5 linked regions of the Homo sapiens genome follow. The gene in region 2 interacts genetically with the main gene of each other region. Each region holds a gene or a part of one and is shown on either strand. Other genes may lie near its edges. The genes, in order: POMC, BCAT2, ATR, AOC3 and PTK6.

The links.
Region 1: changes in BCAT2 (region 2) and POMC together harm fitness more than expected from each alone (negative genetic interaction), as found in Homo sapiens cells (one large-scale study listed by BioGRID).
Region 3: changes in BCAT2 (region 2) and ATR together harm fitness less than expected from each alone (positive genetic interaction), as found in Homo sapiens cells (one large-scale study listed by BioGRID).
Region 4: changes in BCAT2 (region 2) and AOC3 together harm fitness more than expected from each alone (negative genetic interaction), as found in Homo sapiens cells (one large-scale study listed by BioGRID).
Region 5: changes in BCAT2 (region 2) and PTK6 together harm fitness more than expected from each alone (negative genetic interaction), as found in Homo sapiens cells (one large-scale study listed by BioGRID).

What each region holds. Positions count from the first base shown.
Region 1 is NC_000002.12:25,161,905-25,167,562, reverse strand, and holds part of POMC (pro-opiomelanocortin preproprotein), read left to right. Parts: intron 1-1,877; exon of another isoform or gene 1,878-1,927; intron 1,928-2,740; exon of another isoform or gene 2,741-2,770; 5' UTR 2,771-2,790; coding exon 2,791-2,922; intron 2,923-5,658.
Region 2 is NC_000019.10:48,795,723-48,802,003, reverse strand, and holds part of BCAT2 (branched-chain-amino-acid aminotransferase, mitochondrial isoform a precursor), read left to right. Parts: intron 1-1,706; coding exon 1,707-1,817; intron 1,818-1,903; coding exon 1,904-2,023; intron 2,024-2,165; coding exon 2,166-2,329; intron 2,330-4,670; coding exon 4,671-4,813; intron 4,814-4,981; coding exon 4,982-5,067; intron 5,068-5,285; coding exon 5,286-5,426; intron 5,427-5,501; coding exon 5,502-5,576; intron 5,577-6,281. UniProt on the Homo sapiens protein: Catalyzes the first reaction in the catabolism of the essential branched chain amino acids leucine, isoleucine, and valine. May also function as a transporter of branched chain alpha-keto acids.
Region 3 is NC_000003.12:142,565,234-142,571,781, reverse strand, and holds part of ATR (serine/threonine-protein kinase ATR), read left to right. Parts: intron 1-3,627; coding exon 3,628-3,719; intron 3,720-5,520; coding exon 5,521-5,661; intron 5,662-6,548. UniProt on the Homo sapiens protein: Serine/threonine protein kinase which activates checkpoint signaling upon genotoxic stresses such as ionizing radiation (IR), ultraviolet light (UV), or DNA replication stalling, thereby acting as a DNA damage sensor.
Region 4 is NC_000017.11:42,854,714-42,859,974, reverse strand, and holds the end of AOC3 (amine oxidase [copper-containing] 3), read right to left. Parts: coding exon 5,242-5,261; intron 4,582-5,241; coding exon of another isoform or gene 4,532-4,581; coding exon 4,402-4,531; intron 3,701-4,401; coding exon 3,425-3,700; 3' UTR 1,851-3,424; downstream 1-1,850. UniProt on the Homo sapiens protein: Catalyzes the oxidative deamination of primary amines to the corresponding aldehydes with the concomitant production of hydrogen peroxide and ammonia. Has a preference for the primary monoamines methylamine and benzylamine.
Region 5 is NC_000020.11:63,525,782-63,532,267, forward strand, and holds the end of PTK6 (protein-tyrosine kinase 6), read right to left. Parts: intron 5,147-6,486; coding exon 4,965-5,146; intron 4,451-4,964; coding exon 4,297-4,450; intron 3,943-4,296; coding exon 3,755-3,942; 3' UTR 2,220-3,754; downstream 1-2,219. UniProt on the Homo sapiens protein: Non-receptor tyrosine-protein kinase implicated in the regulation of a variety of signaling pathways that control the differentiation and maintenance of normal epithelia, as well as tumor growth.

The sequences.
Region 1 (5,658 bases), on a different chromosome or scaffold from region 2:
CCGGGGCGGGAGCTGTCCTAGATCCTGAAACGCACTGTCTAGTTTCGGATGCCCTCAACAGAACCGGGGTGGACGGTTTATGGCGCAGATCCTGGGTTGAGGGCACGGGCAGCCATTTGGAATGATCAAGGCTCAGGTAAGGGGCGTTTCCAGCGAAGGAGAGACAGTCCACTTGGCATTTGGATTCCCCAAATTCTTCATGTTTAAATGGGGCAGGGAGGGTTCTTACAGAATGGCTGGAAGGAGCCAAGGAAAATAAAAGTGTGTGTGGATTTTTTTTGTGTGTGTGTCAGTTTATAAACTCTGCACAGATTATGGCCACTTTAATGACTTACTGTTCCTTTGATGCTTTTGTTATAGGACTCGATGCATGTATGTCATGGTGTAAGGACAAAACTCGGCCCCTGTGCTCCTCTAATCTTTACAAAAGGTCATGGCCAGCGTGCAGTTTTACAGTAACAAGCAAAATGATTTGTTGAGCTCATAGAGAGCCCCTCACACCTATGAAGTTCTAATAAGTGTAGTTCTACTATAAAGTTAATCTCAGGATGAGCAAATTTCAAGTTTCTATTTTTCCAGAGCTTTCCATTTTTGGATTATAATACTTTCCCTACTTAAAAAAGCACAACATTTGATATTTCCCCAATAATTTGTTGCTTTAAAAATGACACAAAAGGTACTATTTGTTCATTGTAGAGAACTGAAAATACACATAAGCAAATACACATACACATAAGCAAAATATACAATACAAACACAAGACCATCTTTCAGGGAAGAATCTGAAGTTTTAGCAATAGCAGCCATCTAACCAGTTTAGCAACAGAATATAAGCTCTGAGAGGGTGGGAGTGAATATGTTACCACATTGTACAACACAGCACATAGGGCATAAGGAGGGGAAATGCTCTCTGGGGCTTTCCAGGAAGGCCTGAAGTCATTGCTTCTAGCAAATGGAAATCACTCCAGAGTAGTTATCTTTGACAAGAATTGAAATATAATTGAGGGAACTATCAGACCTGTAAGATTTTGTTTTTTCCTTTACTAATATGTTACTTTACATTTGCATTTGGTGACATACGTAACTACCATTTTTCTGTGACTGTAACATCTGGGCATTTTTCAGAGCTAAATGTGCTATGGTCAACTTGGAGCTTTAATCTAATTGCCTGGTCCACCAAGTTCTGGCTGTGTACTTGAATAGATCACTGGCAGGGTACAATGGGAACAGCCTGTCCCTTGGAGCCAGGAGAGGACACCAAGGTTGACCAAAGCTCGTTCAGTTGCCCCTTTAGCCGAAGCGCACCTGGGCCAGTCACTGGCTGCCAGTGCCATCTAATGGCTGCTCTGAAAATGCTCAGCCTTGCCCGGCAACCCTTCAGAAGCTAGCACCGTGCAGGCCCAGCGCCTGGGGAATAGGGCGAGGGTGGGGTAGAGAGAAGGAAGTGGCCTCCTGAAGTAGAAATCAGCGCTTCAGAGGACTTTCACTTCCAAAGCCTCCCCTATATAAAAAAGATTTGGCCCACGCCTCCCCAAATGAGAGATTTATTTTAGGCAAACTTATTTTAAAATGCCAGCGTTCATTAGGAGTGACAAGACACTTAGTCATCCACGCTTTAATGTGAATTACTTTTCTCATCTAATTACATTTCTTTCTAGCAGCTGGCTGAGAAGATCTTCTGAAATCCAAAATGATTGTAGGGTTGGCGGTGAGCTGATCTCCGGCCTCGAGGTGGCTTCAGGGGGCCCACCTGGTTAAGGGAAATTTGGCAGTGCGAGGGTAGTGCTGGAGAGAGGGGTGGGTACAGGGGGCTAGGGGCACCATGGATGCCCCCTCCTTACTGTCCCCTGGTGTCTTGACCTCAGCTTCTGCCCACAGGCACTTGCTGGATTCTCCAAAAGTATCTGCAGTGGCTGTTCCACCAGGAGGTAATTCCCTTCTGGTCTCTTTCCCCTCCACATCTGCATCCTCTTCAAATCCTGCCATTTCAGACCACATTTGAGAGCTCTAGAGAACAAGACATCTGACACGTGACGTGTCCAGAAGATGAGCCAGATTTCAAAGAACTGAGATCTGCTTTAAAAACGAAGCTCTCCAAAGTTACTGGAGTCTGGGTAATAGTGATCACCAGAGTAATTTGTGTGCAGGACATCAAATCAGGCTGCTCGAAATGCTGCCTAAATTGGCCAGTGGTTTTATTTGCTTTTCTGTCAACCTAATATTCATAGGAAATAGAGTTTCAGAGGAATGATAGGATCCTGGTGGAATAAAAAGGGAAAAGACCATCTTGAGCAGGAGTTTCAGGGTCCTCCGTTTTTCCCAAGTTACTTTCACTCCTGAGATCTTGCATGTTAGAACTACAGCTTAATGTAGTGAAATAGGAAAGTTCTCTGTTAGGAGCTTAGCCTTACCTTGTCATGGACATTAAAGTAATTGTCTCTCTTTGGGCTTCAATTTTCCCATCTCTCATGGGAAGGGCTGAACCAAGCAATCCCCAAAATAGCTTCCAGCCTTAACCTTTTTAGGGGTCTCGTTTAAATAGAAGATAACAGGGAAATGGTCACAGTTTACCCACCATTCCCTCCTCCTTATCACAACTTATACCACCGCTGTACTGCACACCTCCTTTCTCAGCATTGCTGCTGTCCTTAAAATGCCTTTAACTCCACAAGAGAGTGTGTTGTTAATGTTGGCTCAAGGTCCTTCCTGGTGAGTGGCCAACATTGTTTTGCTCCTTGCAGGGGTCCCACCAATCTTGTTTGCTTCTGCAGAGCCTCAGCCTGCCTGGAAGATGCCGAGATCGTGCTGCAGCCGCTCGGGGGCCCTGTTGCTGGCCTTGCTGCTTCAGGCCTCCATGGAAGTGCGTGGCTGGTGCCTGGAGAGCAGCCAGTGTCAGGACCTCACCACGGAAAGCAACCTGCTGGTACGTGGGCCATGACTGCCATCTTGGCTTAGACATTAGATGGGACTGGAGCTGGGAAAGCTCAAAAGAAAAGGGTGTGGGGAAAGGGAAATTCATTCCCAGTGATAGGCGTGATTCAATCCAGGGCAGGAGCAAAACTTTGCAGTGAAGTAAGAAATGGGAGAAGAAATCAGGGAAGGAAGCAGCTTCAGGGAGAGGGGTTGAGTCCACAATTTCTGCTTGGTTATCCTTACTTCTTGCCCCATCTTTTATGGAGACCTTGAACCCTTTAAGCTAGAGATGGTGCTATAAGAGCAATAATGGACCCCTCAATCTATTCTGTACTTTAAATCTTTAGCTTCCCAAACTATTCCTTTTTAAGAAGCTCATATCACTTGCCATTTTCATTCCATATTTCTTACCCTTTTATCTACTACCGGTTGCAAAACCAGCCAGGTAGTTCTTCAAATCATCTCTGGAAGAAGGAAAAACCAGGGGCCCTTTTTTTTTTTTCTTTAATTGGTGCCAAATGTCTCATGTTTATTCTGGAGGACTGGCCTTCTGCTGTGTTCCTCTACAGTCTTTCCAGAGCATGTGAAGGCCCTTTGCATCAGGCAGGAGCTCCCTCCAGGTCACCACAGGGTGTATGTATCTGCCTGTGGGGGGTGTGTGTGTGTGTGTGTTGGGGGGCATAAATGAGTAATGATGCCAAATCCAGAGATTAAAAGGCACACTGAGACCAGGCGAGATGGCTCATGGCTGTAATCCCAGCACTTTTAGATGCTAAGGTGGGAGGATTGCTTGAGCCCAGGGATTCAAGACAAGCCTGGGCAACATAGTGAGACCTCCACTTCTACAAAAAATAAAAAAGTTAGCCAGATGTGGTGGCATGTGCCTGTAGTCCTAGCTACTTGGGAGGTTCACTTGAGGCCAGGAGTCTGACGACACAGTAAGCTATGATCACACCATTGCACTCCAGTCTGGGTAACAGAATGAGACCTTGTCTCAAAACAAAACAAAATGAAACAAACAAACAAACAAACCCCCATACTGTTAGTGTCAGTGACCGGAATTTTAATCTTGTTGCCATCACCTGGCAGGTGCTGAGGGTGGAATGTACATAACTACATTCTGTGTATTTTGTCAATGCAGAAGCTGAGTTAAGGTGAAGATAGAATGAGGTCCTCAAAGACACAGACCAGTTTTCATGTGTAATATAAAATAGAAACAAAGAGCCCAGGGGATTCTGTGAGTTCCAGTTTGGAAAGACCCAAGAGTCTCTTGACTTGAGACACCCACAGCACAGCTCACCAGGGAGGGTGCACTGGACACAGTCAGGACCCATGGGTTCTAGACCCAGTTTTGAGGTGTGGGACCTTGACCAGGTCCTATCACCTCTCTGAGTCTCCTGTTTCACTATCTGTCCACGGGAGGGGAGTGTAAATTAGTTTTTTCCATTGTTAACGTTCCACAGAGTTGTAATTCTGAACACCTGGAGTAGGCAATGTCCAGCTCAACAGAGTGGGTAGGATCCTTTTATTTTCTCCTTTGCTATTCCCAAGAAAGAGAGCAGCCAGTGAGCTTTTCATCTTTTTATCACTGAAAACTCAAGGCTGCAGCCTATGCAGCCATTTTCCTAAGCTAATATGTACCACAATAGAGTCCTCTAGGGACAAGGAGCAGAGACACAGGTTCCACAGACGGTGCAATGGAAATAACGCTAGCTTTCCACCCCTCCCTCCAGTCAGAATGAGATTACAGGGAAATAAGCTTGCCCCAGAGCTCACTGGGGGATCTCTCAGAAATCAGCTCAGAAGTCGTGAAAGAACCAAGGTGCAGTTTTGGAGGCTTAGTGCAGAGATGGAGCTGGGGTAGGGCATAAAGTAGGTTTTTCATCACTGAGGTAAGGTTGAGGCATTATTTTTTATTTTTTGTTTATTTATTTATTTTTTTGAGACGGAGTCTCGCTCTATCACCCAGGCTGGAGTGCAGTGGCGCGATCTCCCCTCACTGCAAGCTCCACCTCCCAGGTTCACACAGGTTGAGGCATTATTAAAAATATGTTTAAAAATATGGGCCCTAGTAGCCAGACTTCTATCACCTGGAGAGATTATCCCCCAAATTTCAGCCCCACTCCCCTCCTGGACTTGAATTAAACCATATGTATTTATTCAATATTCTTTTTATTTATTTATTTATTTTTTTGAGACGGAGTCTTGCTCTGTTGCCCTGGCTGGAGTGTGGAGTGCAGTGGTGTGATCTTGGCTCACTGCAACCTCTACCTCCCAGGTTCAAGCGGTTCTCCTGCCTCAGGCTCCAGAGTAGCTGGGATTACAGGCGCCCGCCACCACACCCAGCTTATTTATTTATTTATACTAGAGATGGTATTTCACCATAGTTGGCCAGGCTGGTCTTGAACTCCTGACCTCATGTGATCTGCCTGCCTTGGCCTCCCAAAGTGCTGGGATTATAGGTGTGAGCCACCGTGCCCGGCCCTCAATATTCATTAAGTGCCAACAACTACCACCCGTCTGCCTTTCTTGGAGCCACTCCTTTATGTCAGGCATATAACAGTAAGACTTTGGTCCTGTTCACAAAAGCTAGGGGTGGCTAGATGGCTAGACAAACCATGGAATGGGATGGGAAGTGTGTTGCAGTTGCCAGGCAGAAGCATGAAGGGGATGGGACAAAAGAGGCAGTGGCAAGATCTTAGATGCCCACGAGTGCCAAGAAAGCAGGTGGGCAGACCTGCTCTGT
Region 2 (6,281 bases):
AGTTCAAGACCAGCCTGGGCAACATAGTAAGACCCTATCTGTACAAGAAATTGGAAAAAAAAAAAAAGTCCAGTCGTGGTGGCTCACGCCTGTAATCCCAGCACTTTGGGAGGCCGAGGTGGGCGCATCACCTGAGGTCAGGAGTTCAAGACCAGCCTGGCCAACGTGGTGAAACCCCGTCTCTACCAAAAACACAAAAATTAGCCGGGCGTGGTTGTAGGCACCTGTAATCCCAGCTACTTGGGAGGTTGAGGCAAAAGAATTGCTTGAACCTGGGAGGTAGAGGTTGCAGTGAGCCAAGATAGAGCACTTCAGCCTGGGCAACAGAGTGAGACTCCATCTCAAATAAAATAAAAAATAAAATTCCCAATCCAAGATATAAAACAGTTATTTTTGTTTCCTTCTATAGCTTTTATGGTGTAATATATATATATATATTTTGTTTAGACTTTTAATGCACCTGGAATTTTTTCTGGTGTGAGGTGTGAAATAGAGATTCAACGTAGTTTTTCTCTAGATGGATATTTGGTTATCTATTCCATTATTCAGTCTGTCCACTCATATAGCAGTGTCACTCTGTTTTAAGTATTGTAGATTTATAATGTTTTACTACCTGATATGGCTACTCCCTGCCCCTGCCCCATCTTGCCCCTCATTTTTGTGGTGGTGGTTTTTATCCCCCCAAAATATTGTAGCTAGTTTTGCTTGTCTTCCATTCATTTATCTATTCATTCATCAAAAACCCACTATGGGAAAAAAAAAAAAAGTCTGGCTGGGTGCAGTGGCTCACCCCTGTAATCCTAGCACTTTGGGAGGCTGAGGCGGGTGGATCAACTAAAAATACAAAAATTAGCTGGGCGTGGTGGTGGGCGCCTGTAATCCCAGCTACCCAGGAGGCCGAGGCACAAGAATCACTTGGACCTGGGAGGCGGAGGTTGCAATCAGCAGAGATCACGCCACTGCACTCCAGCCTGGGTGACAGAGTGAGACCCTGTCTCAAAACAAAACAAAACAAAACAAAACAAAAAAACACTCTGTGCCAAGCGCTGCCTACCCTGGTGCATGGGACTGCAGGAGAGGCTGTCTGGTAAACGTGTCAAGGGTAATCCCTGCCTTCCAGGCTCTTCCACTCTGCAGTGGAGCAGATGCTGAACAAGCAAACTTGGAACCATGGGGCAGTGATCAGGGACAGAGTCTCCAGAAAAAAAAAACTAGGTCCCAGGCTGGAGTGCAGTGGCATGATCGTGGCTCACTGCAGTCTCAAACTCCCAGGCTCAAGTGATCCTCCCACCACCTTCCAAATACCTGGGACTCCAGTCACGTGCTACCACGTCTGGCTAATTTTCGTATTTTTTGGTAGAGATGGGGTCTTGCTATAATGCCTGGGCTGGTCACGAACTCCTACACTCAAGTGATCCTCCTGCCTCGGCCTCCCAAAGTGCTGGGATTACAGTGAGCCACTGAGCCCGGTCGTGTCCTTTGCTTTCTAGAGTCTCCGTGTGTCTCTACCTGTTTGTCTCCCTGTCTATATCTGTCTCTCTTTTTCTCCATCTCTCTGACCCAGCTGCTAAATCTCCCCGGTGCTCTCCTCTTGGCCTCCATCTTTCAGTTGTCTGTGTCTTTGTGTATCTGTCTCTGTCTGTCTTGGTGTCTCTCATGACTGTCTGGAGAAGTCTCTGAGCCTCCCCACCCGCGTGTCCCCGCAGCTGTTTGAGGGCATGAAGGCGTTCAAAGGCAAAGACCAGCAGGTGCGCCTCTTCCGCCCCTGGCTCAACATGGACCGGATGCTGCGCTCAGCCATGCGCCTGTGCCTGCCGGTGAGGGGTCCCGGTCCACCGGGGTGGGGAGGAGGGCTGGGGCCGGGGCAGCAAGGGCCCCTTGACTCATTCAGAATCCCACCCAGAGTTTCGACAAGCTGGAGTTGCTGGAGTGCATCCGCCGGCTCATCGAAGTGGACAAGGACTGGGTCCCCGATGCCGCCGGCACCAGCCTCTATGTGCGGCCTGTGCTCATTGGGAACGAGGTGGGCCCAACTCCAGGGCTGGGAAGCTGGGCTGCGGGGGTTGGATTCTGCAGGGCAGGGGTGGGGTCCTGGAGGCCTGGGCCTGGGGACGGGAAGGGACTGGGGGCCTGGACTCCTGACGCTGTCCCTTTGCCCGTCGCAGCCCTCGCTGGGTGTCAGCCAGCCCACGCGCGCGCTCCTGTTCGTCATTCTCTGCCCAGTGGGTGCCTACTTCCCTGGAGGCTCCGTGACCCCGGTCTCCCTCCTGGCCGACCCAGCCTTCATCCGGGCCTGGGTGGGCGGGGTCGGCAACTACAAGTTAGGTGGGTAAGTAGCACCCCCATCCCCAGAACGACTGGCGCACTGGGCGTTGGAGACACAGGGACCAGCGTGCGTGCTTTCGGCCATGCCTCTGGATGTCACATGAAGGTGACATCATCAGCACCGTGCAGGGCTCAGTGCTAAGTGACCTCCCTGGTCCCTGAAAACAAACCATGGAAGGAAGGAGGAGGGGATTATTTTTCAGATGGACAAAAAGGCTCACAGATGGGAAGGCATTGGGTGGAGGTCAGTGGGGAAACCAGGACTGGTCCCTGGAAGCCTCCAGGAGTGAAGCTTACACTCAGCTCATTGGCTTCTCGCCCCAGAAGCCTCCCCTGATCCCCCAGGCTGGGCTGCGCTCCCCATACCCAGCTCCCACAGTCGTTTGAGCCTCCAAAGCCCCTCACCCCCGTGTGGACTTTCTGTGTAAATCTGTCTCCCAGTGGCCTCAGCTCAGCAGGGCAGGAAGGAGACAGCTGGGTCTCCTGGGCAACCAAGGCAGAGGGTGGGCACTGGCGTGTTGGGACAGGAATGTGGCCCCAGCTGGGGGTGCATTCAGGTCCTTTCAGCCACATCCTGTGAGGTCTCCTGAGGGCCAGGCCCTGTGCTGGCAGAAGCTGGGGACACAGATGAGTCAGCCCCGAGCCCTGCTCTCCTGGGTCTCCCAGGCTGGTGGGAGCCCCAGTATTCGGAGCTGCATGTTCTCTGGTGAGGTGACCCAGGGCATTGTGAAAGCCTTCACAGAGGCCAGAGGCGGTGGCTCACGCCTGTAATCCCAGCACTTTGGGAGGCTGAGGCGGGCAGATCACGAGGTCAGGAGATCGAGACCATCCTGATTAACACAGTGAAACCCCATCTCTACTAAAAATACAAAAAAAAAAAAAAAAAATTAGCCGGGCTTGGTGGCGGGCGCCTGTAGTCGCAGCTACTCAGGAGGCTGAGGCAGGACAATGGCGAGAACCCAGGAGACAGAGCTTGCAGTGAGCCGAGATCGCGCCACTGCACTCCAGCCTGGGCGACAGAGCGAAACTCCATCTCAAAAAAAAAAAAGAAAGGTTTCGCAGAGGAGGCGACCCTTCAACTAGGTCTGACGAGGAGGGAGGAGGGGGTTTCCTGGGTACAAAAGTCAGCAAACTGTTTCCAGTCCTGGGAACCATGTGTACAGGGACAGAAGGAATAGGATCACAGAAGATGTTCAGGTTACAAAAATAAGTTTGGGTTTTGAAAAATGCTTAGCAAGTATTCATTAGACCCAGGCAGGCCTGGAATGCCGGAAGGAGGCTAGGGTCTTGTCCTGGGGCACTGGGGAGCCATGGGAGGCTTGTTAGCAGCTGAGGGGAGAGGCTATCTCTGGGAGAGAGACTCAGAAAGTCATCCAGGTAGCCCAGTTCACTGGGGGAGTCCAGGGAAGGTCCAGCACCCAGCCTGGAGGTCTGGAAACACCTCTCGAGGAGGTGACAACAGAAACGGTTTTGGAGCCAGGCGCGGTAGCTCACGCTTGTAATCCCAGCACTTTGGGAGGCCGAGGTAGGCGGATCACTTGAGGTCAGGAGTTTGAGACCAGCCTGGCCAACATGGTGAAACCCCGTCTCTACTAAAAATATAAAAAGTAAGGCCGGGCGCTGTGGCTCACTCTTGTAATCCCAGCACTTTGGGGGGCTGAGGCGGGCATATAAATATAAATGTGAATATAAATTAGCCGGACATGGTGCTGCATGCCCCAGTTACTCCAGTTACTCAGGAGGCTGAGGCACGAGAATCGCTTGGACCCGAGAGGCGGAGGTTGCAGTGAGCTGAGATCGCACCACTGCACTCTAGCCTCAGCCTGGGCGACAGAGCAAGACTCTGTCTCAAAAAAAAAAAAAAGAAAAAAAGAAAAAAAGAAATGGTTTTGAATGACAGCTGAGGATTTGGTCAGTATGAAATGGGTGAGGGCTGGGCGCGGTGGCTCACGCCTGTAATCCCAGCACTTTGGGAGGCTGAGGCGGGCAGATCACCAGGTCAAGAGAGGCTGAGGCAGGAGAATCTCTTGAACCTGGGAGGCGGAGGTTGCAGTGAGCCAAGATCGCACCACTGCACTCCAGCCTGGGTGACAGAGCGAGACTCCGTCTTAAAAAAAAAAGAAAAGAAAAGAAAGAAAAGTGGGAAGAGACAGGAGAGAGGGGACATAACCATTTAGGGTCCTGATGCCAAATGAAAAGTCAAGGATTCCATCTCAGGGGAACTGGGGAGCCCTGTGAGAGCTGTGAGCAGGGAGACGGGAGAGAGTAGGATGAGCCTCCTCTGGGGCTGGGCTGGGGAAGGATGGGGCTCCCTTGCCCCACCCAACCAGACTGCCCTCCACCAGGAATTATGGGCCCACCGTGTTAGTGCAACAGGAGGCACTCAAGCGGGGCTGTGAACAGGTCCTCTGGCTGTATGGGCCCGACCACCAGCTCACCGAGGTGGGAACCATGAACATCTTTGTCTACTGGACCCACGAAGATGGGGGTAAGCCCACCCATGACCCAGCCCGAACCCTGGTGGAAGTGGGTGGCACCATCATTCCTGGCAGGTTACAGGCCCCAGGGATTCTGGGATGGGGGAAGGGGGTGGCTCTTAAGACGGCGGTGCTAGGGGGTGAGAGGTAACATCTTCCACCCCTTACACCTGCCCTAGTGCTGGAGCTGGTGACGCCCCCGCTGAATGGTGTTATCCTGCCTGGAGTGGTCAGACAGAGTCTACTGGACATGGCTCAGACCTGGGTGAGGACATGGCATCTTCTGGTGATGGGCGCCATGTGCCAGGGGCCAGGGCATCAGAGGGCTGGGACTGGGGCACACTGGCATGTCTCTGCCCCTTCTCCTGGGTCTGTCTCTCCCGTTGGGCCTCTGTCTTTCTCACTATCCTCAGGGAGGGAGAGGTGGAGGTCTGCAGCAGGGCAACCCTCTGGGGACACGTGTCTCTGCCAACTGCCCTGCAGGGTGAGTTCCGGGTGGTGGAGCGCACGATCACCATGAAGCAGTTGCTGCGGGCCCTGGAGGAGGGCCGCGTGCGGGAAGTCTTTGGCTCGGGCACCGCTTGCCAGGTCTGCCCAGTGCACCGAATCCTGTACAAAGACAGGGTGAGGCGGGGCTGCCATTGTGGGTGGGAGGGAAGGAGGGGAGGGGCTTGGTCCTCACCGCACCTTCTGTCCCAGAACCTCCACATTCCCACCATGGAAAATGGGCCTGAGCTGATCCTCCGCTTCCAGAAGGAGCTGAAGGAGATCCAGGTGAGCTGCAGGGAGCTGGGGAATGGGCTGGGAGCTTGTTCCCTGGAGAAGTTGGTGTCCCATGAGCCCCTGGACTAACAGCCAGCCTCCTTCAGTAGTACCAGGAACAGATAATGGCCTTTCTTATTGAGGCCCTGGAGAGTGGGCTTTCTGTGCTGCTCTGTGGCCTGGAAAACCCCTTGGGGCTAAATCACCCTTTCCTGGGAGCTCCCGGAGCCCTGGATATGTCTTCAGCTTTGGAAACCCCTTCCTGTGATCCTCTGCGGCTCCTGGGTGCCCTGGTAGGAGAAACCCCCTCTCCGTGGGCCTCTGAGGCCCCTGGGTGCCCTGGTGGGAGAAACTCCCTCCCTGTGATCCTCTGCTGCCCCGGGTGCCCTGGTGGGAGAAAGGCCCTTTCCATGAATCACTGAGACCTTAGCCAGCCCTCTGGCCATCTCAGAGGTTGGCCTCCCAAGATTCCCTGGAGCCCTGGGCTATCCCTTTGGCCGGAGAAAGCTTCCTCCCATGAGCCTCTGGACCTTGGCCCCTCTCTGGCACCAGACTGTTTAATCCCATAAATCTCTGGGGGTATTCCCATCTTCTGGGCCAAGATCTCTTTCCCAAGAATCTCTGGGCTCCTTTCCCAGACCTAGAGCTACATTTCTGTAAACTTTTGTGCATCAGGACCTAGAACTACACATCCTCTGACTATCTGGGCTTTCTGAG
Region 3 (6,548 bases), on a different chromosome or scaffold from region 2:
CAGAAAAAGAAAAAAATTCACTCTTTTTCTTTTACCACTATTTGAGATAATAAGTGGGGAAAATGTATGAACATTTTACAGTGCTATATAGAAATAAATTGTGACATATATGAAATATATGCTATTATTTATAAGTAACTGTCTTACTACACCCTAAGTTGTTTTGTCAGAAGTGATGGACTTTGCTAATCACTCACACATAACCCACTGTGAATCCTCTAGGTAGAGTTAATCATTCCCTGCTTTGGGTGTACATGATACTTGCTTTTGATTATTTATTTATTTATTTATTTATTTATTTATTTATTTATTTATTGAGACTGAGTCTCGCTCTGTCGCCCAGGCTGGAGTACAGTGGCGCGATCTCGACTCACTGCAATCTCCGCCTCCCAGATTCAAGCGATTCTCCTGCCTCAGCCTCCTGAGCAGCTGGGACTACAGGCGCCCGCCACCACACCCAGCTGATTTTTGTGTTTTCAGCAGAGATGGGGTTTCACCATGTTAGCCGGGATGGTTTAGATCTACTGACCTCATGATCCGCCTGCCTTAGCCTCCCAAAATGCTCGTATTACAGGCGTGAGCCACCATGCCCGGCCGCTTTTGATTATTTAAGTGCATTCCTCTCCTCTCCCCAGCAACTATTCTGAGTTCTTTGAAGCAGAGGATCTTGTTTTACTTGCCTTTTGAATTTATTAAATTATTTGCGTCTGTACCCATCCATTCTTTCTATGTTTATGAAAGAGTTACCCTCCTGTCCAAGGATTGTCTTTTTACTTATATCTGGTTCCAAGAAGAGGAGTCACATCTCAAGAATTGGTTGCTTAGGTCTTTCCATTATAAGGGAGAAACAAAACAAAGCCCTCTTGATCTCATACAGTTCTTTAGTTATCACCAACTCTACTTCTCTTCATTTCATGATCAAGCTTTGGAAAGAACCCGCTATTCTCAGTATTCACATTTCATTAGATTTTCAGCCCCTTGCAATCTGGCTTCTCTCTTTACTGCTACAGGAAAATTTTAAAAGTCCAAAAGGCATACAAATACCTAAACATAAGAACTAAAACTATGAAACTCTTAGAAGTGAACATAGAGGGGGCCGGGCATGGTGGCTCACACCTATAATCCCAGCACTTTGGGAGGCCAAGATGGGTGGATCACCTGAGGTCAGGAGTTCCAGACTAGCCTGACCAACATGGAGAAACCCTGTCTCTACTAAAAATATACAAAATTAGCCAGGCGTGGTGGTACATGCTTGTAATCGCAGCTACTCAGGAGGCTGAGGCAGGAGAATCGCTTGAACCCAGGAGGCGGAGGTTGCGGTGAGCTGAGATCGCGCCATTGCACTCCAGCCTGGGCAACAAGAGTGAAACTCTGTCTCAAAAAGTAAATAAATAAATAAAAATAAGGGAACATAGAGGGAAAACATTATGACACTGGATTTGGCAATGATTTCTTTGATATGACACAAAGCACAGGCAGCAAAATAAACAGATAAATTGGAATTCATCAAAATTAAAAACTTTGTGCATCAAAGGGCAGTATCAATAGAGTGAAAAGGCAACCCATGGAACTGGAGAAAATATTTGCAAATCATATGTCTGATAAGGAGTTTAATATCTAGAATATATTAAGAACTCCTACAGCTTAACAACAAATATAACCTGATGAAAAACAGAAAAAGAACTTGAATAGACATTTCTCCAAAGAAGATATACAAATGGACAAATAAGCACATGAGAAGATGCTCACAATTACTAATCATTAGGGAGATGCAAATCAAAACCACAGGATACTGTTTCACACCCATTATGATAGCTATTAATAAAAAAACAGTTGGGGCTGGGCATGTTGGCTGATGCCTGTAATCCCAGCACTTTGGGAGGCTGAGGCAGGCGGATCACGAGGTCAGGAGATTGAGACCATCCTGGCCAACATGGTAAAACCCCATCTCTACTAAAATACAAAAAATTAGCCAGGCATGGTGGTGCATGCCTGTAGTACCAGCTACTTGAGAGGCTGAGGCAGGAGAATTGCTTGAACCCGGGAGACAGAGGTTGCAGTGAGTTGAGATCATGCCACTGCACTCCAGCCTGGTGACAGAGCAAGACTCTGTCTCAAAAAAAACCAAAAAACAAAAAAAATCCCACAAAAAAAAAACACAGTTGGGCATGGTGACTCATGCCTACAATCCCAGCACTTTGGGAGGTCAAAGCAGGCAGATCGCTTGAGCCCAGGAGATTGAGACCAGCCTGGGCAACGTGGTGAAACCCTGTCTCTACAAAAAATACAAAAAATTAGCTGGGTGTGGTGACATGCACCTGTGGTGCCAGCTACTCAGGAGGCTGAGGTGGGAGGATCTCCTGAGGCTGGGAGGTTGAGGCTGCAGTGAGTTATGGGTGCACCACTGCACAGTAACCTGGGCAACAGGGTTAGACCCTGTCGCCAAAAGGGGAAAATAAAATAATAATAAAAAAACACCCAGAAAATAACGTGTGTTGGTGAAGATGTGGAGAAATTGGAACCCTTGTCCACTGCAGGTGGGAGTGTACAATGGTACAGCCACTGTGGAAAAGGGTATTAGCGTTCCACCAAAAATTTAGTTTTTATGTGCTTCAGAAGGGAGGAAGTGAATGCTAATTGGTCCATAGGCAGTCATGGGTGGGCCTGGAAAAAGCACCCTAAGTTCTCGCTGTGGTCCGTGTAACTGGCAGCCAGGCTTCCAGGCTTCAAGCTGTTCCTGGCTTGAAGGTGGGTCTTCACTGGGGACCCACCCCTTTCCTCCCAGGAGCCTACTTCCTGCTGCCATCAACCTGCCACCCACTACACCGAGGCTGTTCGTGCCGAGGGGCGCCTGCAGGCCCATATTGAGCTGCCCTCAGCCTACCGCTTGGCCTGCCCAAAGTCCAGAGGGAGATGAGGCAGCAGGGGGCTGGTGTGTCAGTGCCGTCCTGAGCACATGCACACGCGGCCTGGTCCTGACAACACCTGGGCTCCCCCACAACTTTGCTCCGAAATTGGTGTGGGTGCCGGGAGCGGGGAGAGGCCAGGCAGCGGGAGCAGGCATTTCCAAGTCTGTGAGGGCAGGGGGCCTTCCCGGCCCTGGAAAGAGCAGGGATGCCTGGGTTTGCAGCCGTGGTTGGGCGGCTGCAGCTGCACCCAGGATGGCTGGGCTCCCGACCCTGCAACTCGGAAGGGGGCGGGGCTTCCACCTGTCTTGCACCTCAGAAGGGGGCGGGGCTTCTGCCCACTAGCGCCCTGGAGAGAGCAGCCCTAGCACCACCTTCCTCACCGCTCCAACTGGGCTGCCACTGCCATCAATAGCACATTTCAATTTGTACTAATCACATTTCAAGTTCTCCCTAGTTACTTGTAGCTAGTGGCCACCATATTGAGAAGTTCAGGTCTAGGCTTTGCTGATTGGATCTCTTTAGTATTACTTAGCATATTCTTTTTTTTCTTGTAAGTTGGTAACATATTCAGATTTTCTTTTCAATTTTTAAACAGAAGAATACTGTGAATATCAACATTGACACTGAACACATTTGATGAGTTCTACTTTAGAGAAATTTTTTTTGCAAATGAAACTGAGTCACTTTAAGGATTAAAAGCTTTTAATTTGTATTTTAGTGCCACACCAGAGGAATATAATACAGTTGTACAGAAGCCAAGACAAATTCTGTGTCAATTCATTGACCGGATACTTACAGATGTAAATGTTGGTAAGAAACCAATTATTTCTTATATAAACTTTATAAATTAGACTTTTCTTTTCCATGTATAAATTATAGTAGCATTTTCTCCATGTAGTTTTAGATATGGAGTATTTATGATAGTTACTATTTTCAAGCAAGTTATTTGTTAATCAGTATTGCTTATTGCTTGTTACAAAATTTGAATTAGGCTTTTAAAATAATTCTCTTTTCCTGTTTGTTATCTAGATTTTCTACTGCTTGCTATGAGTTCTTTAATATTGGATATTATATGTAAAAATATTTGTCCAGTACCAATCATGTGGACCCTATTTTGGTTAGCTGTTATGCCAGTGGTAGACTAATAGCAAATGCCACCCAAAAAAACCTCTTTAAGTAAGTTACTCTTTAAGTAGGTTCATGCCTGTGCCTATAGGAGATTATAGGATTATGTGAGTTACTGAATCAATTATTGCCTGTTTGTGCCAATCTGCTAGACAGAATATTACCAACCTGGCAAGATGGTGTCACATTTGTCATATCTGTTGAAATTACATGGGAGGGATAATATAAAATGGCATTAGGCTCAGGGTTTATAATTTGGATTCCAAATTTGGCGCAGATTTTATGACTTAGACTAGCCATTAATCCTTTCTTTTTCAATCAGTAAAATGATGGGTTGCTGAAAAATAACAAAGGACTACTGAATACTTACAAGATGTGTTTTTGTATCGTATTCATATTCCCTCCGTTTAGACTACTTGCCCTTCCCCTCTCTGACCAACTCCTCATCTAGGAATCATTTCCTTCACAGTGTCCTCCCAGATACCTGTTTCTCCTTATTCTGGATTAGTGCTGTTACCATATTGTATTATAATTATTAGTTGGTTTGTTTGGCGCCCCACTGGATTGTGAGAACTTTTTTTTAATCCTTAGATTTTAGCATTGCCTGGCATATTATTCCTGAAGTACATGTTTGATAAATAGATGTATGGTAGAGGAATGCATGTGATTTTTAAACATTTAAAATTAGATAAGACTGTAGTGTTGGCTGGGCACGGTGGCTCACGCCTGTAATCCCAACACTTTGGGAGGCCGAGGTGGGTGGATCACCTGAGGTCAGGAGTTTGAGACCAGCCTGGCCAACATGACGAAACCCTGTCTCTACTAAAAATACCAAAATTAGCTGGGTGTGGTGGCACACACCTGTAGTCCTAGCTACTCAGGAGGCTGAGGCAGAAGAATCACTTGTACCCCGGAGGCACAGGTTGCAGTGAGCCAAGATCACACCACTACACTCCAGCCTGGGCAACAGAGTGAGACTGTGTCTCAAAAAAAAAAAAGACTGTAGTGTTTAGCCCCATCAATTTAGCTTGAATGTTGTTGAGTGCTGTGCTGGATATAATTCTGGTCACCAAAGTCTGGTTCCCCACCCCCACCCCACTTTTTGTTTTTTTTTTTTTAATTTTAAGAGACAGAGTCTTGCTTTGTTCCAGGCTGGAGTGCAATAGTGTGATCGTAGCTCACTACTGCCTTGAACTTCTGGGCTCAAGGGAATCCTCCAGCCTCAGCCCCCTGAGTAGCTGGGACTATAGGCACACTACCACTCCCAGCTAATTTTAAGAAAAATTTTTTTTGTAGAGACGGGATCTTGACATCTTATCCAGGCTGGTCTTGAGTTCCTGGGCTCAGGTGATCCGCCCACTTCAGCCTCCCAAAGTACAGGGGTTACAGGAGTGAGGCACCTTGCCTGGCCCACAGTCTGGTTTCTTAACAAAAGGACCATTGTTTAATTTGTCATGACTCTTTAAAATGAATCTTATTGTTTTAGTTGCTGTAGAACTTGTAAAGAAAACTGACTCTCAGCCAACCTCCGTGATGTTGCTTGATTTCATCCAGCATATCATGAAATCCTCCCCACTTATGTTTGTAAATGTGAGTGGAAGCCATGAGGCCAAAGGCAGTTGTATTGGTAAGTGCTGTTATTCATGCATTCACTTGCCATCTGTTCTATAAAATCCTCCTTTTACTGCTCTTCTGAAATATTACATGTACAGGATTATACTTTTTTGGGTCAGCTTTGCTATAAATTGAAGGAGCAAAATGGTAATGGTTATTTTTCCTTCACATATCCTTATTGTTTTCTTTTTAGTATTGTATACTAGGTACTTAGAAATAATCAAATTTGTTTATTTGCCATTGAACACTTTGGCATGGTTTTCTTTTTTCTGTTTTTGGTAATCTCTTTCTTCTAGATCAGAGCTTGGCAAGCTGTAGTCCACAGGGTGGCTGCCTGTTTTTGTGAACAAAGTTTTGGTGTTTTGTTTTGTTTCCTTTTTTTTTTTTTTTTTTTTTTTTTAAATAAGACAGGGTCTCGCTATGTTGCCCAGGCTGGTCTTGAACTGGTAGACTCAAGGGATCCTCCTGCCTCAGCCTCCTGCATACCTGGGACCATAGGCACATGCTACTGTGCCTGGCTTCAGTTTTTGTAAACAAAGTTTTATTAGAACACAGCCATGCTCATTCTTTTACTTATTGTCTGTGACTACTACAAAGGCAACTTGGGCACTCAAGCCAAAAATATTACTATCTGGTCCTTTAAAAAAAGTTTGCTGACCGCTATTCTATATATTGAAGCTTTTCTCTAGGCTTATTCTTTATTGCACCTACTACTTTTGTCCCTTCATTGGTGTCTTCATAAAGAGATGCAAAATAAACATTTTTTTTGTATAATGGATAAAGTATTTTAAAATTTTTTGTTCAAACTTTAACTCAACTTTGATAGCATGTCCTCCAAGAAGTTTTTTTCTGAGCACTACTTCTAACTGCTTAGAACTGGCTTGGTTATTCCTTTATTCT
Region 4 (5,261 bases), on a different chromosome or scaffold from region 2:
GAGTCTAAGGCAGGAGAATCACTTGAACCCGGGAAGTGGAGGTTGCAGTGAGCCAAGATCATGCCATTGCACGCCAGCCTGGGCGACAAGAGTGAAATTCCATCTCAAAATAAAAAAAATAAAAGAGGTGAGGCGAGTGGGCACACCTCATGTCCTCACAGGGGGTTGCCATGTTCACATTCCTGGAGAAGTCCTAGTCATGCCCTCTGACCCAAGCCTCAGGGATTCCCTTGTCCAACTCCTTTATCTCAGGCCACTGGGCCCCAAGTCCTGAAGATCTGAGCCTTGGCAGCACCAGTTCCTTCAGAACCTGACATCCTCAGCCAGTAATCACTCCTAGACAATTGACCACAAGTCTGAAGCCAAGACTCCAGACAACTTCTGTGGTCTAAGGAAGAGATTGGATTGGGGTGTGGGGCTGGAGGTCCACCTTGCGGCCCTCCTGACCCGAGCTGAACTGATGTTCTAACAATCTAGATGTCCATTCTGCCTCCCCTCATCTGGGGCCTGGGGCAGGTGGCATCATCACCATGCTGAGATATAAGGAAGCAGACACAACCAGTCACGTTTTCATATAAAAGCTTGTGAGAATTGACATACAACTACACACACAACACATACAAACACTTTGGTCTGGAGATGGGTTTCAAGGCAACTAAATTCCAGTGAACAAGATGGTGAGGGTGCGGGGGTGGATATCTGAATTCCTTTGCTCCCCTTCCCCCAGCACTGATGATGGTGCAAGTAGCCATAAGAAAGAGCCGTAAGGAGGTGGGGACAAGAGGATATGCATTGAAATGAGAAGTTCAGGCCGGGTGCAGTGGCTCACACCTGTAATCTCAACACTTTGGGAGGCCAAGGCAGGCAGATCACCTTAGGTCAGGAGTTCGAGACCAGCCTGGCCAACATAGTGAAACCCCGTCTCTACTAAAAATACAAAATTAGCCGGGCGTGGTGGCAGCACCTGTAATCCCAGCTACTCAGGAGGCTGAGACAGGAGAATCGCTTGAACCCGGGAGATGGAGGTTGCAGTGAGCCGAGAGCGTGCCATTGCACTCCAGTCTGGGTGACAAGAGTGAATCTCCATCTCAAAAATTAAAAATTAAAAAAAAAAGAAAGTTCAAGTCCTCAGGTCAGAGGGATTATGAAGCCTGCATCAGTGTCCCAGCAGGCCACAGCATCCCCCTTTCTCCTGCATCTCTGTCTTGAGTCTGCCCTTCTCTCCATCTCTCCCTGTCCTCCTTCACTCCTGCCTCCACTCCTGGCCATATTATGAATTACTATGCCATTGAAGGCCCCCTGCTCCTTACTGAAGGCTTTCTTCCTGTTCTTTAGAGCCTAATTTCTCTCCAGCTCATTGATTCCTCCCCATCCATTGTTCCACTGACCTACGGCAGAACTTGGGCTTGGGGCAGAACAGAAGGTAGCAGAAGCTTCCATGATGCTGGAGCTCCCAGAACATATTCTGGTCTTTTTCTGGTCAGAAGCTGAGTGGCATCCAGAATGTTTCCTGCACTTTACCTCCTGCCCTGGCCTGGGCTTCTGGCAAGCAGAAGTCACCCCTCCTCACTGCTTCTCATTGCCCCTCATTGAGAGAGAGAGAAGACAGGAGAGAGGGAAAGGGTGGGGTGTGTGTGTGTCAGGGAATTAACCGAGGTTTAACATTTCCTCAAAGATGTACAAGCATGAGAAGGCAAAAGGAGTTACTAGAGGCCACACCTGCTTCTCTGGATCTCAAGAACTGGAGAAAATTTCATCCCTGGTCCCATTCCTTAACCCACTTTACCCTACCCCCAACCTGTTCCCCACCAAAAAAAAAAGTGTCAGTAAAAAAAAAAAGTCAATTCCTGTTTGGGCCCATTTATTGTTTATTTTGAATAGGTAATACAGTCACATGGTTCAAAATTCAAAATGTACAAAAGGGTGTAAGTGTTAAGACCCTTCCCTCTCCTGTCCTCAACCTACTGGTTCCCCTCCCAAAAGTAATCAGTGTTACCCATTTATTCTGAATAGGCATACATAAGCAATTATGTGTTTATATTCTACTCCTTTCTGAAACACAAATGGGAAGTGCGCTATACACATTTCTGTGGCTTGCCTTTTTCACCTGAAGATTATTACATATTAGTATATAAAGACATACAATTATTTTTTAGCTGCATACTATTGTATTGTAAGGCTGTATCAGAATTGATTTAACCAGTCCTTTAGAGAAAAAAGTTTCTGTTGTTTCTCATCTCTTGCTATTTCTTTGTCCCCATCCCCAATCCAGACCTCAGGAGGGACAGCAGTGATGGGAATGGAGCCCAAGCCTGGACCAGGCCAGGCCCTGCCCCACCCAGGCCAGGCCCCTCCCCACTAGGCCAGACCCCCACCTCACCCAGGGCCCAGCTCATTCGCATGCCTGAATGTGATTGGACAGCCCCTCCTGGCTGGGTGGCTGGAGTTGTAGGGGCTTTGGCTTCTCATCTTTGATGCCCACCCTTTGTTTCCACTCCAGCCTCCCAAACAGGCTGTTGCAGAATACAGAGCCCTGGTACAAAATGGCCATTCTTCATTATCATTGCACCCCCAAATCACTTGAAATGCTAACTTGAGCTGCTGCTGTCACGATGACCATCCTCCTCTATAGAGAGCATGAGGCAGGCAGACACAAATGCACAGAAGCAGCTGTCCTGAAACACACCCAGCCCCAGGACAGGGGTAGGAGCAACTCCTACTCCCAATAAGCAACAGACACAAGGGAACGACACACAGGGATTGGCCACTCTGATTAGGGGTCCCGTGACCTTGAGACTTCCATAGGGCTGGAGAGGAGACGGAACTTGACTGAAAACTGAGGGCTGGGGGAGTACCAGGGGCTGGGACATAGGGATATCCCCTCAGGATTCGGGAGAAATTGCAGGATAGAAGAGAAGGCAGGAACAGGAGGAGGAGGAGGAAGTAGGTGAGAGAGAGGAAGACGAGAAGGAAAGGACCTGGATGAGAGGGAATGTGAGCAGAAGCATCCTTTCCAGCTCAGCTATGGACTTGCAGGACTGGCAACCCTACTCTGGGGTCTCCAGGGAATAGCCCCCTTTTAGAGTCCTTGGAGGTGGCCTAAAAAGATTCGGGAAAGCCAGACAGCAACAAAGGGAACCATCTAGGGAAGCCCTCGGCCACGGCTCCAGGCTGGGCCATGCCTGGCCTCTGTGGATGAGAACTCAGTACAGCTGGCATCAACAAGGTTCAGTGTCCCCTGTGTCAGGCATCACAGGGTCAGGAGGCTCCTGGCTCAGAGGCGGATGCGAGGGAGGGTAGTGGAAGAAAGAGAGTCCTGGCACAGGAAAGAGGGAACCAGGCTGCCGGCCCAGTGCCCAGCTGCTCCCCATCCCTCACACCCTGGCCCTGGAGCCCTTGGCCACATGCCCCATCCCAGGACCGCCTAGTTGTGAGAGAAGCCCCCGTGGGAGAAGGCAGGGAGGTCGGGGGCACAGGCAGCAGCCTGGGGCAGGCAAGCTAGGGGGTTGACCTCGCAGGCCCCAGCATCCTGGTCCCCTCGGAAGTAGATGGAGTCGGCAGAGTAGAAGGAGGGGTCTTCGTCAAAGAAGTTATAGGGTCGGAGGAAGAAGCCCACGCCGTTCCCCACAGTCACTGTGTTAGGAATGTCCTCTGCATGTGGGATATGCAGAAAACCAGCTGTCACCCAGGCCACCAAATCCTAGCAGGGGAGAAGAAAGAGGATCACGAGGTCTGGCTTTGCTGAGGACATGCCCTGGTAGGGATTCAGCTCACCAGCCCAAGGATCATGAGTCTTTAAACATTTTTTCCTGCTGGGTAGGAGTCAAAGCATAAGTAGTCCATTTCATATTAGGAACACCTGCTTCCCTGTCCCTGGCTTGCAGCCTCCATCTCTGACATTTCCCATCATATCGCCCATTGCCTATCTACCCCCAGAGGGTGACACCCACAGGCTACTTCAGCTCCTCTTCCCCTAACTCTCCAAGAGTTCCCCACAACTGAGGAAAGAAGGGTGGAGGAAAAAGAACCAGCGCTTGGGAAGCAGAACCAGGCCAACATTGTGAAATTCATCAAGTCAGGAATGGGAGAAGCTTCAGATACAGGAGATGTCATTTTCCCTGGTAACTTCCATCCCTCCTGAGTCCTGGAGCCTGGAAAGGACTCAGTCCATGAAACTGGAACTAAGAGGGCTCTAAGATCTCAAGGACAGGCCCAGGGCCTCACTCAGTGTCTGCATATGGACACCCAGCTCAGGAAGGTTCCCTCAAAGGATAATGATCAGATATACTGAAGTGCAGAAGGCAGGAATCAGCACCACCCCTGAGAAGTGCAGGTGGTTTTCAGGGACCCTCCCAAGAGAAAGCAAGGCTCATCCTGTACCCTCTACCCCGGCCAGCTGACCTTTCCAGCAATGGTCTCATTGTTGATGAAGTCACTGAAATCCACAGTGGGGGCCCAAGGGTCATTCTGATTGAAAACGCTGCTGCTACTGGGCTCCTCCTCCTTCCGCTGGGTCACAGCCAGCTGGTACCTAGGGAGGCACTGGTCAGGCCTCCATGGCCATTGACCCCATCCTGCTGCCTGATTATGATGAAAGGGAACTGAGTGCTCAGAGCTCAGCTTCCCCAATTGCAGTCACACAACTGACTCGGCGCTACAGAATCCCCGACGTCACCCTAAGGGGGGTCAAGTCCTCCTGTTTATCCCCAGCCATTTAACAGTACAACCCCTCTCCCATCCAAAACAGAAGAGAGTTCTCACTCCTGGGCTTTAGCCTCCAAGGGGAAAATGTGCCCATCATGGTTTCTTTGGATAACTAGAAAAACCTTTGGCCAGGCATTGTGGCTCATGCCTGTAATCACAGCACTTTGGGAGACCAAGGAGGGTGGATCATGAGGTCAGGAGTTCGAGACCAGCCTGGCCAACATGGTGAAACCCTATCTCTACTAAAAATACAAAAATTAGCCATGTGTGGTGGCGTGCACCTGTAATCCCAGCTACTGGGGAGGCTGAGGCAGGAGAATCGCTTGAAACTGGGAGGCGGAGGATGCAGTGAGATTGCTCCACTGCACTCCGGCCTGGGCAACAGAGCAAAACTCCATCTCAAAAAAAAAAAAAAAAAAGGAAAAGAAAAGCCTTCCTGAGAGAGCTCTCCCCTCACCTACAGTGTGAGCTGAGTGTCCGCCAACACTCCTTTCCCACTCTCACTGCCCCCCTCCTCTCTGACTGCCCGCCACTCACCTCTCCCAGCTGAAGCCTCT
Region 5 (6,486 bases), on a different chromosome or scaffold from region 2:
CGGGAGGCTGAGGCAGAAGAATGGCATGAACCCGGGAGACGGAGCTTGCAGTGAGCCGAGATCGCGCCACTGCACTCCAGCCTGGGCGACAGAGCAAGACTCCGTCTCAGGAAAAAAAAAAAAAAAAGTTCCAGTAAAGCAAATTTTAAAAGAGCCCACGTGTCCAGGTGTACCTATAATCCCAGCACTTTGGGAGCCTGAGATGGGAGGTTTGCTTGAGCCCAGGAGTTCAGGACTGGCCTGGGCAACATAGTGGGGCTCCCTCTCTACTAAAATACAAATAAATTAGCCAGGTGTGGTGTCACATGCCTGTCGTCCCAGCTACTCTGGAGGGTGGGGCTGGAAGGTGGCTTGAGCCCAGGAGGTCAAGGCAGCAGTGAACCATGATGGTACCACTGCACTCCAGCCTCGGTGACAGGGTGAGGCCCTGTTGGAAAACAAAAATGAGGAAGAACCTATGTGGTTAATCACTATTCTTGTTCCACTTACATAAATAACCACACCAGGTTTAATGAGGCCAAACTTACTCTGCAATCAAATCAATCTTTTATTATCTTTGATAGAAATGTGTTAATTTGAAAACAATCCTACTTTTATTATCTTTGATAGAAATGCGTTAATTTGCAGCCGGTCACGGTGGCTCACACCTGTAATCCCAGCACTTTGGGAAGCCGAGGTGGGCGGATCACCTGAGGTCAGGAGTTCGAGACCAGCCTGGCCAACATGGCAAAACCCTATCTCTACTAAAAATACAAAAATTAGTCGGGCGTGGTAGCAGGCACCTGTAATCCCAGAGACTTGGGAGGCTGAGGCAGGAGAATCACTTGAACCCGAGAGGCAGAGGTTGCAGTGAGCCAATATTGCGCCATTGCACTCCAGCCTGGGCGACAGAGCGAGACTCCATCTCAAAAAAAAAAAGGAAGAAGGAAATTTGTTGGCTGGGTGCGGTGGCTCACACCTGTAATCCCAGCATTTTGGGAGGCCGAGGTGGGTGGATCACCTGAGGTCGGGAGTTCGAGACCAACCTGACCAACGTGAAGAAACCCCATCTCTACTGAAAGTACAAAAATTAGCTGGGCGTGGTGGCGCATGCCTGTAATCCCAGCTACTCGGGAGGCTGAGGCAGGAGAATCACTTGAACCCGGGAGGCAGAGGTTGCCGTGAGCCGAGATCAAGCCATTGCACTCCAGCCTGTGCAATAAGAGCGAAACTCTATCTCAAAAAAAAAAAAAGAAAAAGAAATTTGTTGACTGTAGAGAGAAAAATTATGTTTCAAAATAAAACTCGTGCCCCCACTATTAGACTCTAGCCCGGTTTGCTGTCTGGAGGTTTTGTCGCCCACCTGTGGTCCGGACCGGGTCCTGAACTTCAGTTTCCTCCAATATTTGCCTACAGCTCACCAAACCACTCTTTCCAATTTTTTCTTCCACCATTCCTCATGGAGTCACTGAAAATTAAAACTGCTCTTTTCCCAAAGCCCTGTAAGCTGAAGCTGCCCCACTTGATACAGACTTCAGAGAAATTTCCCCAGCAACTCTCGTACAGACGGCTTTCGTGCCCAGGCTGGGCGCAGCAGCTCAGGCCTGTAGTCCCGAGGCAGGAGGATTGCTAGAGCCCAGGAGTTCGAGACCAGCCTGGGCAACATAGCAAGACCCTGAATCTCCTAAAAAAAAAAAAATTTAAAATTAGCCAGGTGTGGTGGTGCATTCCTGTAGTCCCAACTATTCAGGAGGCTGAGGCGGGAGGATCACTTGAGCCTGGGAATTCAAGGCTGCAATGAGCTGTGGTCACGCCACTGCGCTCCAGCCTGGGTGACAGAGCAAGACCCTGTCTTCAAAAACAAAAACAGAAACAAAAAACGTTTTCTTACATCTGGAAAACAAAATATTAAAGAACCGTAATGCTTCAGACAAAAGTCATTAAACAGTAAACATCCTCGTCAGTTCATTCATTCCCATGTCATTAATTCTTGTTCTGGTTGATCCTGGGACAGAACTTTCATGGACCTGCCAGGTCCCTCCTTCGAGTTCTGGAAATTTGCACCCAATCCAAGGCTATGACCTGAACCAGAAACCTGTGCTCCAGAGCACCTGTCAGAATCCTTCCCAGGAATCTCTTTGAAGAATAAACAATTTGGGACTAGCTGATTGCAAAGCTTTCAGAAAAAATCAAAGTAAGATAATAACTGTGAATGACCGAAGACTTAAGATAGCCATGGCTCAGGATCTGATGAGAGTTTATTATATTCGTGACACGGTTGGCAAGGAAACTTGGTTATTTCTGTGGCATGCAGCATTTTAATGTAATAACCAAAATTATGACTGATAACATTGCACCAGATTTCTAGGAATAGCATGTGAGATAGGATATATATCATAGGATAACGTATCAGATTTCTAGGAATTTTATAGAGTTTCTGCAACATTCATATCAAAACCAAACCCGTAAATAGAACCTCCAGAAGACTTAGTGTGACTTACTATTTCACACGCTTTCCATCTCATGTAGCACATCGGATAAGCCTGATTAGTCTGACATCTGTCTTTCACAAGGCAGAAGACAAATCCTTTTGAGAAATCCTAGTACCTTTCCAGAAACTCCCAAAATTATTTTTCTTTCTTTCTTTTTTTTTTTTTTTTTTTTGAGATGGAGTCTCGCTCTGTCGCCCAGGCTGGAGTGCAGTGGCGCGATCTCGGCTCACTGCAAGCTCCACCTCCCGGGTTCACACCAGTCTGCTGCCTCAGCCTCCCACGTAGCTGGGACTACAGGCGCCCACCCCCACCACCACACCCAGCTAATTTTTTGTATTTTTTAGTAGAGACGGGGTTTCACCGTGTTAGCCAGGATGGTGTCGATCTCCTGACCTCGTGATCCACCTGCCTCAGCCTCCCAAAGTGCTGGGATTACAGGCATGAGCCACCGTGCCCCGCCTATTCTTCTTTTAAACCAAAAAAACTTTCAGGTGAGTCAAAACCAAAACCAATAAGCTTTTTATGACTTAACCATGGATGAAAGAGACACCTTCAAAATCAGGTGCAAAGGAGGCAGCCCCCCCAGCCCGGAACCACCCCACAGACAGTAGAGAAGGGCCCTTGTCAGCGCAGGAGTGAGGGGCGCTTTCCAGCACTGACCCAGCGACAAAGGTGAAGGTGGGAAAAGCCCCTTGTGGACGTGGACGGTGAAACTGAGCTGGCGCCTCGGGCAGTGATGCTTGGGCTGGCAGAGACCAGGGAGAGAGTTCTCACTGGTCATAAGGCCAAGCTCTCAAGACACAAGACAAACAGGAAAGAAACACCTGCCCCTGGGAGGAAAGAACCCTTGAGCACCAAAACCAAATTTACATGAGCGTCCCGAGCCACGCGAATGACTTTCTCCCACCAAGCTGAACTGGGAAGAGCAGGAACAAGGCGTGTTTGCCTCCCACCCTCAGCCGGGCACTGCAGACAGACAGCCAGAGAGCGGGCTGTGGTCAGAGTCCCCTCTGACCTCTGCTGGCTTCGTGTCAGTCTCCCGGATCTCATCTGCAGGCTCCAGAGCAGGCTGCGTGTCAGCAGCTGAGACCCAAGGCACACACGATGGAGTAAGGAGAGGAGCACACGCGTGTATTGGACGCAGACACTCCACATTTGTGAACCTTTCCTGCACCCATCACCTCAGTAAACCCCAGGGAAGCGCGTGGGCCTTGATCCCAGGTCCAGGCCCTCTGCCCAGGCCCCTCCTCAGCAGGGCCCGGCCATGCCCGCTCCACAGCAGCTCAGGTCGGGTTCTCGTAGCTGGTGAAGCTGGAGAGCCTCTCCCGCAGGGCCTTGAAGCAGGGTCTCTGCTCGGGGTCCCTGCACCAGCATGTCAGCATCAGCTTGTGCACGCTGGGCGGGCACTCCAGAGGGCAGGGCATGCGGTAGCCGGCGTCCACCCTCAGGAAGGCCTCATGGTTGGACATGCCTGCGGCCGACAGGGATGAGAAGAGCTGGGGCCCACCTGCCTACCCTCCCCCAAGAAGCCACACCAGCCATCCACTGCCCCTTCCTGGGGCCTTCCCCGCAGCCTCAGCTGCCATGCCTTGGCGCCACCCAGCACACTGTCCACTGCTAACACCTCCCTCTGGACAGGGCTCCAACAGGCAGCTCCAGGCACCAGCCTGGGTGCTCAGAGAATGGTGCAGGTGTGGAGTTCAGGCGATGGCCCGCGGAGGGCCCTGAAGCCCGTGGGGGAGGCACCCCCCAGCGTCCCTGCCGGCTACCCAGGACCTCCCCCACTCTGCCTCTCATGCCCAGTCAGGGACAGTGGGGACAGTACCTGGGTAGGGCACCTGACCCCTGCTGAACATCTCATGCAGGAGAATCCCAAAGGACCAGACGTCGGATTTGGTGGAGTAATGGCCTCGGGAGAGCGCTTCAGGGGCCGTCCACTTGTAGGGGATATTGTGGTCATGGGAGAGGTAGACGTCCTCCTGCAATCAGCCTGGAGCTGAGTGGGCCGTGGGGGCTGCCTGTGCCCTGCCCCCGAAGCATGGACGGGCACAGCGGCCGCATTGCCCCAGCAGTGGGACGGTGATGACCCCACTGTCTGACCCACGCACGGCCGCTGCAGCTAAGGCCACACTGGGGCCTGACCACCTTCAGGAGCCCAACTTCCCCTGGGATTGCAGGTGTGTGGGGACCGGAGGGCCCGGGGGACAGGGAACTGGGAGGCTCCCAGGCCGTCAGAGGGGCCCAGGGCTGGGCCAGTGAACAAGGCACGTGAACAAGGCAGCGGCTGCGTGGTGGGCCCTGCTGTGCGTGCCATTCAGAATGGGGGCCCCACCGGACTCACGGTGGCTTCCCACCTCCCTGCCCAGCCTGGGCTCCCGAGGGCAGGGGCCGCATCCTGCTCCCAGCCGAGTCCCCAGCTCCACACACAGGAAGCCCCCAGCCCTCCGGCCACGCCCCGGCCACGACCCCAGCCACGCCCTCTGAGGGCCCTACCTTGATAAGCCTGGCTAACCCGAAGTCCCCAACTTTGCAGAGGGTGTTTTCCCCGACGAGGATGTTCCTGGCGGCCAGGTCCCGGTGGATGTAATTCTGCGACTCCAGGTAACACATGCCCTCAGCCACCTGCCAGGCGATGTCCAGCAGCTCCGAAACGGGCAGGACTTTCTCATCAGAGTCTGCAGAGGGGAGTGGAGCAGAGCCTGGGGTCAGCTGAGCCAGCTGAGGTGGGGAAGGGTTGGGGAGGCTGGGCCATGTCTCATCTGCCTCCAAGCTCTGCGGGCTCAGAGGAGGGGCCGGGGCAAAGGGCAGCTGGCCTGATTGAAAATTGGAACTGCAGGCCAGCTACCGCCCTTCTGGAAGGCAACTGTTTATCACGAACCAAGGAGCAAGCTGGGCGTGGTGGCTCACGCCTGTAATCCCAGCACTTTGAGAGGCTGAGGCGGATGGATCACGAGGTCAGGAGATCGAGACCATCCTGGCTAACACGGTGAAACCCCATCTCTACTAAAAATACAAAAAATTAGCCGGGCGTGGTGGCGGGCGCCTGTAGTCCCAGCTACTCGGGAGGCTGAGGCAGGAGAATGGCGTGAACCCGGGAGGCGGAGCTTGCAGTGAGCCGAGATCACGCCACTGCACTCCAGCCTGGGCGACAGAGCCAGACTCCGTCTCAAAAAAAAAAAAAAAAAATATATATATATATATATATATATATAATTAGCTGGGCGTGGTGACAGGTGCCTGTAATCTCAGCTACTCAGGTGGCTGAGGCAGGAGAATCATTTGAACCCAGGAGGTGGAGGTTACAGTGAGCCGAGACTGCGCCATTGCACTCCAGCCTGGGCGACAGAGTGAGACTCCGTCTCAAAAAAAAAAAAAAGAACCAAGGAGCAGTTCCTAGTGGTCTAGCCCAGCGATTTCCCTTCTGGAAGTTTGTGATGACGCGGGAGGAGCTGGACGCAGAAGGACCAGCGAAGAGGCTCATGACTGCGTGATGTAGGCAGTGGGAACTCGAACAGGAGAATGGCTGTCAGCGGCTTGCGGCCTGGTGGTGCCTGTTTTACCCCACATTCCCTCCCGGAGGACCCTGAAGGGCGTGGGGACTGTCTGAGATGATCAAGCCCTTTGTGTGAGGGCGAGGGGTACGGAGCCTTTCGCTCAGAGCGCAAACGTGCGTGGTGCCTCAGTGTAGCTCTCCTCAGACACACACGGCATTTTTCCTATACCACAACGTTCCCTCCCATTCTAACATCGGAATCCAAACTGCGCCTTCACGCACGGGCATCTCCATTCCCTGGCAGCGATTGTCTTTGGTTTTGGTGAGAAAGGAAATAATGGAACTTAGAGAGGATGAAGTCTTTGAGCCAATGTGATCTGTGTGTGTCTGTGTGTGTGTCTGGATCAGTGTGTGTCTGTGTGTGTGTGTGTCTGTGTGTGTCCGTGTGATCTGTGTGTGTGTCTGTGTGTGTCCGTGTGATCTGTTTTGTGTGTCTCTGTGTGTGTGTCTGTGTCTATGTGT